2 linked regions of the Homo sapiens genome follow. Changing the gene in region 1 together with any one later gene gives a genetic interaction. Each region holds a gene or a part of one and is shown in the gene's direction. Other genes may lie near its edges. The genes, in order: GMPS and ACY1.

Region 1 (3,815 bases):
ACTCTATTTAATGATATTTATGTACGAGGCTACCCAAGCCCTCCTCAGGTATGGGTATACAGATTATTTTGCAAACAGAAAAGCTTATTGTGGGAGAGGTAAAGATTCTATACTTTTTTTTTAAAGGGCCACTAGTAAACTTCTTAGTCCTTAATAACATTTACTTTTGTAGATACCTTTTATACTTTTTAAAAACAAGGTGCAATTGATAGTTATAATGAAATGAGGTCAGTAGTTTAATGATAAAAGTTATTGTACATATTATGGAATTAATTGGAATTGATACCAAAAGGCTGAATAAAATGAAGACTTGTAGGTAAGTATGATGTGAACATGAGTCTATTTTTTTGAAACTTCTCTAAAATAACAGTAAAAGCATAAAACAGTGTAATACCTTAAGGATGTGGGATAGAGGAGATGACAGAAGACAGATGGTTTCAATAAAGTGTTGGAAAGTGGAAAGCAGATGGGTAAAGGTGGATTTTCTCTGTTTAAGCTAGGGGGGTCTCTCCCAACATCCTGGGAAGGTCCCCAATGGTATCTTCACATGGTGATAGGTTTTTGTGAAATTTGCAAGATATTTTGATAATTTGTAGTTGTTTATTTTCTTTCAACTCTGACTTGTTTTCTGTTAGGTGGTGCTGGAATAGCTGTGGGCATTTTGAAATCAGGCTAAGACAAAGATGAGCTGGGGATGTGCTTAGTATGGGTTTAGTGGTATATATGTGATTTGCAATTATTTCTGTGTATAGTTAAGTACTTGTTAGCCATCCCAGTATAACTTAAGATTTTTAGTATCTTATTTGTTATTCTGGTTCTTGAAGGAGTCCTTCAAATTGTAAAACTTGGATCTGTCCCTGGTAACTGACATAGCAGAATGGAGGAATTCACAACCTTGGGGTGGGGTGGGAAGGAAGCCAATAAAAAGCAAGCTGATTTGTGCTGTAGACTTCTGGGGAGGCTCAGGAATTTGAAGCATTGGGTTCTTTTTGGGACATTGGTCTCTGGGTTAGCCTAAAACAGGGATTAGTTAAAAATCTGAGAAGCAGATCCTTTTCCTTAGCACAGGAGCAAACTGTGCTCTCCTTCCCCATCAGAACACTGTGGATGTATTCTCTAGAGGGGCTAAACGAGAGGTTCTGGGCTTGAGCCTACTAATACCAGGCATAGTTGAGGGTGGAGGTAAGACTCTACATTAAGAACAGGATTAAGTAAAATTCTCTATGCTGAATGGTGATTCCCTCTTCCTACCACTTCCTCTGTTTAACTGCCAGAATGCCAATAGGCAGGAGAGTAGATATGTCTTCTCTGGGTAGTTGACCAGGTACAGGAAAGACCTACAAATTCACTGGCTTTTCCACAATGAAATAGCCAGCTGCCTTGTCATCTTACGGTGAAGGCCTCCAGTAGCTAAGTTTTATTAGCAAATAGAGATCTTAGTTTTTAGTTTCTTGTCATTAAATAAAAAGCCAAGGATTGTTAAATGTATGTTCATAAATATTAGTTTTACAAGACACTAGGGTGTGATTCCAACAGCTTTGACTCCGTTTAGGAGCCGGTGCTTTTGACTTCTTTGGGGCTAAGCTTCTTGCTGTGGCTTCTGCTTGTTGCTCTGGTGAAGCACTGAAGAGAGGGAAAACAATCAGCATAAATTTTTTTTTTTTTTTTGAGACAGAGTCTTGTTCTGTTGCCCAGGGCAGAATGCAGTGGCACAACCTCGGCTCACTGCAACCTCTGCCTCCCAGGTTTAAGCAATTCTCTTGCCTCAGCCTCTGAGTAGCTGGGATTGCAGACATGTGCCACTACGCCCCACTAATTTTTGTGTTTTTAGTAGAGATGTGGTTTTGCCATTTTGGCCAGGCTGGTCTCACACTGCTGACCTCAAGTGATCCACCCAACTTGGCCTCCCAAAGTGCTGGTATTACAGGTGTGAGCCACCGTGCCGGCCCTAATCAGCATAATTTGTGATGTCATGGCCCTAGATCTAAATGCCAGGAGATTCTCACAGAAACAAAATTTAATGAGTGCCTGTATCTGAATTCTGTTACTCAGGATTTATTGATAGTTCTTTTTCTTTTCTTATTTTTTTTTTGGGGATGGAGTCTCTCTCTGTCACCCAGGCTGGAGTGCAGTGGCACAATCTCTGCTCACTGCAAGCTCCGCCTCCCGGGTTCACACCATTCTCCTGCCTCGGCTTCCCAAGTAGCTGGGACTACAGGCACCCGTCACCACACCCAGCTAATTTTTTGTATTTTTAGTAGTGATGGGATTTCACCATGTTAGCCAGGATGGTCTTGATCTCCTGACCTCGTGATCCACCTGTCTCGGCCTCCCAAAGTGCTGGGATTATAGGCATGAGCCACCGGGCCCGGCCAATAATTCTTGAATATTGATAGTTTATTGAAATTTGTAGGCAGATTTAGGGGAGATCAAAGGACTGCTCTTCAGACTGGGAAAGAAATAGCTTTTCTTTCTGTATTTTGACTTGTTATTTTTGATTAAAAAACATGTTATACCAATTTAAAACGCTTCTCCCCTTTCCTCCAGTGATAAATGCTGCTCATTCTTTCTACAATGGAACAACAACCCTACCAATATCAGATGAAGATAGAACCCCACGGAAAAGAATTAGCAAAACGTTAAATATGACCACAAGTCCTGAAGAGAAAAGAAAAATCATTGGGGATACTTTTGTTAAGGTACCTTTGTTTTTAATATCCTCAACATGTACTATTTTTGATGTGAATCTTAGTATTTGTTTTTCCTTGTCACTATATCAAATAACCAAATTAGCTAATTTTAATCCTTTTTCTTATGTGGCTGAGAGTTTTATTGTATATTGTCATTATATTGACCAGTAGAAACTGTTTTATGTTTTTTTGTTGTTGTTTGGTTTTTTTTTTGTTTTTTTGAGACAGAGTCTTGCTGTGTCACCAGGCTGGGCTGGAGTGCAGTTGCACGATCTCGGCTCGCTGCAACCTCTGCCTTCTGGGTTCAAGTGATTCTCCTGCCTCAGCCTCCTAAGTAGCTGGGACTACAGGGGTGCACCATCATGCCCAGCTAATTTTTGTACTTTTAGTAGAGACGGGGGTTTCACCATGTTGGCCAGGTTGGTCCGGATCTCCTGACCTCATGATCCGCCCGCCTCAGCCTCCCGAACTTCTGGGATTACAGGTGTGAGCCACTATGCCCAGCCAACTGTTTTATGTTTTAATAAACATGTTTGCCTACATTGCCAGGCTATTATTTTAAGAATAGATGTCTTTAAGAGTAGATGTATTCAGCTTATCATAGACTTTAATTCATTGATTATCTCAATGGCTAATTTCAAGCTCTTGAATGGAATGTTCACATACCTTTGTTTTTGTTTTTTTTTTTTTTTGGAGGCGGAGTTTTGTTCTTGTCACTCAGGCTGGAGTACAATGGAGCGATCTTGGCTCACGGCAACTTTCACCTGCTGGGTTCAAGCGATTCTCCTGCCTCAGCCTCCCGAGTAGCTGGGATTACAGGCATGCACCACCATGCCCAGCTAATTTTTTTCTTTTTTTGAGATGGAGTCTCACTCTGCCGCCCAGGCTGGAGTGTAGTGGTGCAATCTTGGCTCACTGCAAACTTTGCCTCCAGGGTTCAAGCGATTCTCCTGCCTCAACTTCCTGAGTAGCTGGGATTACAGGCGTGTGCCACCATGCCCGGCTAGTTTTTGTATTTTTAGTAGAGACGGGGTTTCACCATGTTAGTCAGGCTGGTCTCAAACTCCTGACCTTGTGATCTGCCTGCCTTGCCTCCCAAAGTGCTGGGATTACAGGCGTGAGCCA
Region 2 (3,478 bases), about 100 Mb from region 1:
TTATGCCCCCTCAGGTACCTGGAAGCTGTGAGGAGGCTGAAGGTGGAGGGCCACCGGTTCCCCAGAACCATCCACATGACCTTTGTGCCTGGTAGGAGTGGCTCAGATACCTTTGGGAAAGGGGAGGGTGGGGCGGGGCAGCCTCCTCATCTCACGTCCCTGCTGCTTTTACAGATGAGGAGGTTGGGGGTCACCAAGGCATGGAGCTGTTCGTGCAGCGGCCTGAGTTCCACGCCCTGAGGGCAGGCTTTGCCCTGGATGAGGGTGAGCAGGTTGGCAAGCCAATGAGCAGCCAGGCAGGGAGTAGGAGGCTGCTAGTGGGGACTGAGCTGCTCCACCCTCTGAACCCCCTTTCCCTCCTCAGGCATAGCCAATCCCACTGATGCCTTCACTGTCTTTTATAGTGAGCGGAGTCCCTGGTGTAAGTATGAGCTTGGAGGGAGGGCTCACTCTACAGGCGGGAGGCTAGGCCAGAAAGGGCACGGTCCTATGCAGGGTTGCACAGCAAAGTTGAGGCCTGAGAAGGCCTTGAACCCAGGGCCTCTACCTCCCAGCTCTTTCCTATCTGAGCTTCTCTGAGGGCAAGCCCTGAATGGGCAGAAACCAGCTGTATGCTACGGGCCCTGAGTGGGGACAGGACCCTGCCAGAGGAGCCTGGAATGAGGGGGAGACCTGGGCCCACCCCAGGCTGATTGTGTCTCCAGCCCCTCAGGCTGAAGACACTGCCTTCCCCCTACACCTCCCCAGGGGTGCGGGTTACCAGCACTGGGAGGCCAGGCCATGCCTCACGCTTCATGGAGGACACAGCAGCAGAGAAGCTGGTACGTGGCACCCCAGGAGGGAGTCTGGGAGTTCAGGAGGCTCTATCCTGAGGCCACTGTCCCATTTAACCTCATATTCTCATAGCACAAGGTTGTAAACTCCATCCTGGCATTCCGGGAGAAGGAATGGCAGAGGTGAGGCAGCCTGGGAGGCAGTGGGGTGGCTCTGGGAGGCGGTACCACAGAGGATAGAGTCTGAGCCACCTCTTTTATCTGTTGCTGCCGCTACCCTGCCCCCACACCACAGGCTGCAGTCAAACCCCCACCTGAAAGAGGGGTCCGTGACCTCCGTGAACCTGACTAAGCTAGAGGGTGGCGTGGCCTATAACGTGATACCTGCCACCATGAGCGCCAGCTTTGACTTCCGTGTGGCACCGGATGTGGACTTCAAGGTGCCACCTCCACCTGGGTTTGGAGGAGGGATCCTGGGTCCTCAGTCTTGTCCTAGAGGCCTCTGGAAAGCCTGAAGGATCAGCTCGTCTCCCTTCTCTTAGGCTTTTGAGGAGCAGCTGCAGAGCTGGTGCCAGGCAGCTGGCGAGGGGGTCACCCTAGAGTTTGCTCAGGTATGGACTTGGGACATGTGATGGGAGAGTGTGGGAGCCGGGGGAGACCCAAGTGTGCAACAGTGGAGTGTGTGCTTGGTGTGTCTGCATATGTCTGGGCATTTCTTTATCTGTGACAGACACATTTTATTCCAACAAGCATTCATTGTAGAGGCCACTGTGGGTGCTGGGGAATGCTGTGGGGAGTAAAATTAGGCACAGTTCATGCCCTTGTATGGTGAAACGGGGAGATATAAATCAAACATTTATGTGATATTACTTTTTTCTGAGAGAATCTCACTCCGTCACCCAGGCTGCAGTGCAGTGGCACAATCTCGGCTCACCTCCGCCTCCCGGGTTCAAGCAATTCTTGTGCCTCAGCCTCCAGAGTAGTTGGGATTACAGGCACCTGCCACCACGCCCAGCTAATTTTTGCATTTTTAGTAGAGACAGTGTTTCACCATGTTGGCCAGGCTTGTCTCGAACTCCTGGCCTCAAGTGATCCACCCACCTTGGCCTCGCAAAATGCTGGGATTACAGGCATGAGCCACTGCGCCCAGCCGTACTTTCATATAACCCATGTGGTACAGGAAAGGGTGGCCCCTTGCACTCTGAAAACCTGTAACTGGAGTATCCAACTAGTCTGAGAGGTCTGGGGGAGCCATCTTGAGGAAGGGGCACTTGGGCTAGGATCTGAAGGATGGACAGGAGGTAAGTAGACGGAGGGTGGGAAGGTCCCAGACCTAGGACATTTGAGGGGCTGAAAGAGGACCTGTGGCTGGACTGGCTACCCAGATGTCTGGGTAGGTGAAGGAGTGGGGGTGGGGAGGTGTTATGTACTAGGCACAGCCCACTCTATGGGAAATAGGGCAAGATGCCCAGGCCCATGTCCTGATCCTGCCATTCTTCCTGTCCCTCAGAAGTGGATGCACCCCCAAGTGACACCTACTGATGACTCAAACCCTTGGTGGGCAGCTTTTAGCCGGGTCTGCAAGGATATGTGAGCACGCTGGCCAGCTCTCCTCACAGCCCAGCCCCCTACTCCTCTCCTTCCTGCTGCCCCCTCCCTTCTCCCTCCTTCTCCCACCTCTTTCCCACCTTCCTTTGCCCCTTCAATTCTTCGCTTTCTCCCTCCCCATTCATCAGGCTCTTTCTCCTACAGGAACCTCACTCTGGAGCCTGAGATCATGCCTGCTGCCACTGACAACCGCTATATCCGCGCGGTGAGCCACTTGCATATAGTGCCTGGGCAGTGGACTGGGCCTGAGTGCTGGCTTTTCCCTAACGGCTCTTCCTCACCCCTGCAGGTGGGGGTCCCAGCTCTAGGCTTCTCACCCATGAACCGCACACCTGTGCTGCTGCACGACCACGATGAACGGCTGCATGAGGCTGTGTTCCTCCGTGGGGTGGACATATATACACGCCTGCTGCCTGCCCTTGCCAGTGTGCCTGCCCTGCCCAGTGACAGCTGAGCCCTGGAACTCCTAAACCTTTGCCCCTGGGGCTTCCATCCCAACCAGTGCCAAGGACCTCCTCTTCCCCCTTCCAAATAATAAAGTCTATGGACAGGGCTGTCTCTGAAGTACTAACACAAGGACACTCGTGGAGCAAGAATTTTCCTTTTCCTGGGGACATGTTACCATCTCCATTTCACAGATGAGGAAACTGAGCCTGGCTGTTAGCACTTCCCCACTACCCCACACTGCTCTGTGCCCCTTGACACAGCACACCCATTCAGTACCATCCAGCCATGTCTGTGCCTAGCAAGAAAGGGCCACAGTTCCTATTTGAGTGGCCACCATACTTAGTTCTGACCTATCAGGGATTCCATTCCCATTAAAGAGGGATACTAAGGACCTCAGGAACCACTCCCATCTTCCTGGGTGTACATCTGGGATCCTGAGACAGTACCAGAATAGCACCAGCTGGGCCCCTGCTAGATGAGGGGCAGGCAGAGGGCCAACGGTGACTGCTGGCTCCTGTCAAAACCTGTACACCCTTGTGTTGGCAGCAGGGGCCACAGAGGGGCAGGGTCCCTGGTAGACTAGGTCAGTTCATCTTAGAGGCCTCAGCACCCTGGATCTGTGTGTGCAGAGGCCCAGGAACTGGGCTTTC

What was found.
Region 2: changes in GMPS (region 1) and ACY1 together harm fitness more than expected from each alone (negative genetic interaction), as found in Homo sapiens cells (one large-scale study listed by BioGRID).

What each region holds. Positions count from the first base shown.
Region 1 is NC_000003.12:155,911,872-155,915,686, forward strand, and holds part of GMPS (GMP synthase [glutamine-hydrolyzing]), read left to right. Parts: intron 1-2,547; coding exon 2,548-2,699; intron 2,700-3,815. UniProt on the Homo sapiens protein: Catalyzes the conversion of xanthine monophosphate (XMP) to GMP in the presence of glutamine and ATP through an adenyl-XMP intermediate.
Region 2 is NC_000003.12:51,986,241-51,989,718, forward strand, and holds the end of ACY1 (aminoacylase-1), read left to right. Parts: intron 1-14; coding exon 15-91; intron 92-174; coding exon 175-264; intron 265-364; coding exon 365-421; intron 422-747; coding exon 748-821; intron 822-906; coding exon 907-956; intron 957-1,068; coding exon 1,069-1,213; intron 1,214-1,315; coding exon 1,316-1,384; intron 1,385-2,283; coding exon 2,284-2,363; intron 2,364-2,525; coding exon 2,526-2,586; intron 2,587-2,670; coding exon 2,671-2,835; 3' UTR 2,836-2,957; downstream 2,958-3,478. Other genes in the region: ABHD14A-ACY1 readthrough (NMD candidate), read left to right, coding at 15-91, 175-264, 365-421, 748-821, 907-956, 1,069-1,213, 1,316-1,384, 2,284-2,363 and 2 more. UniProt on the Homo sapiens protein: Catalyzes the hydrolysis of N-acetylated amino acids to acetate and free amino acids.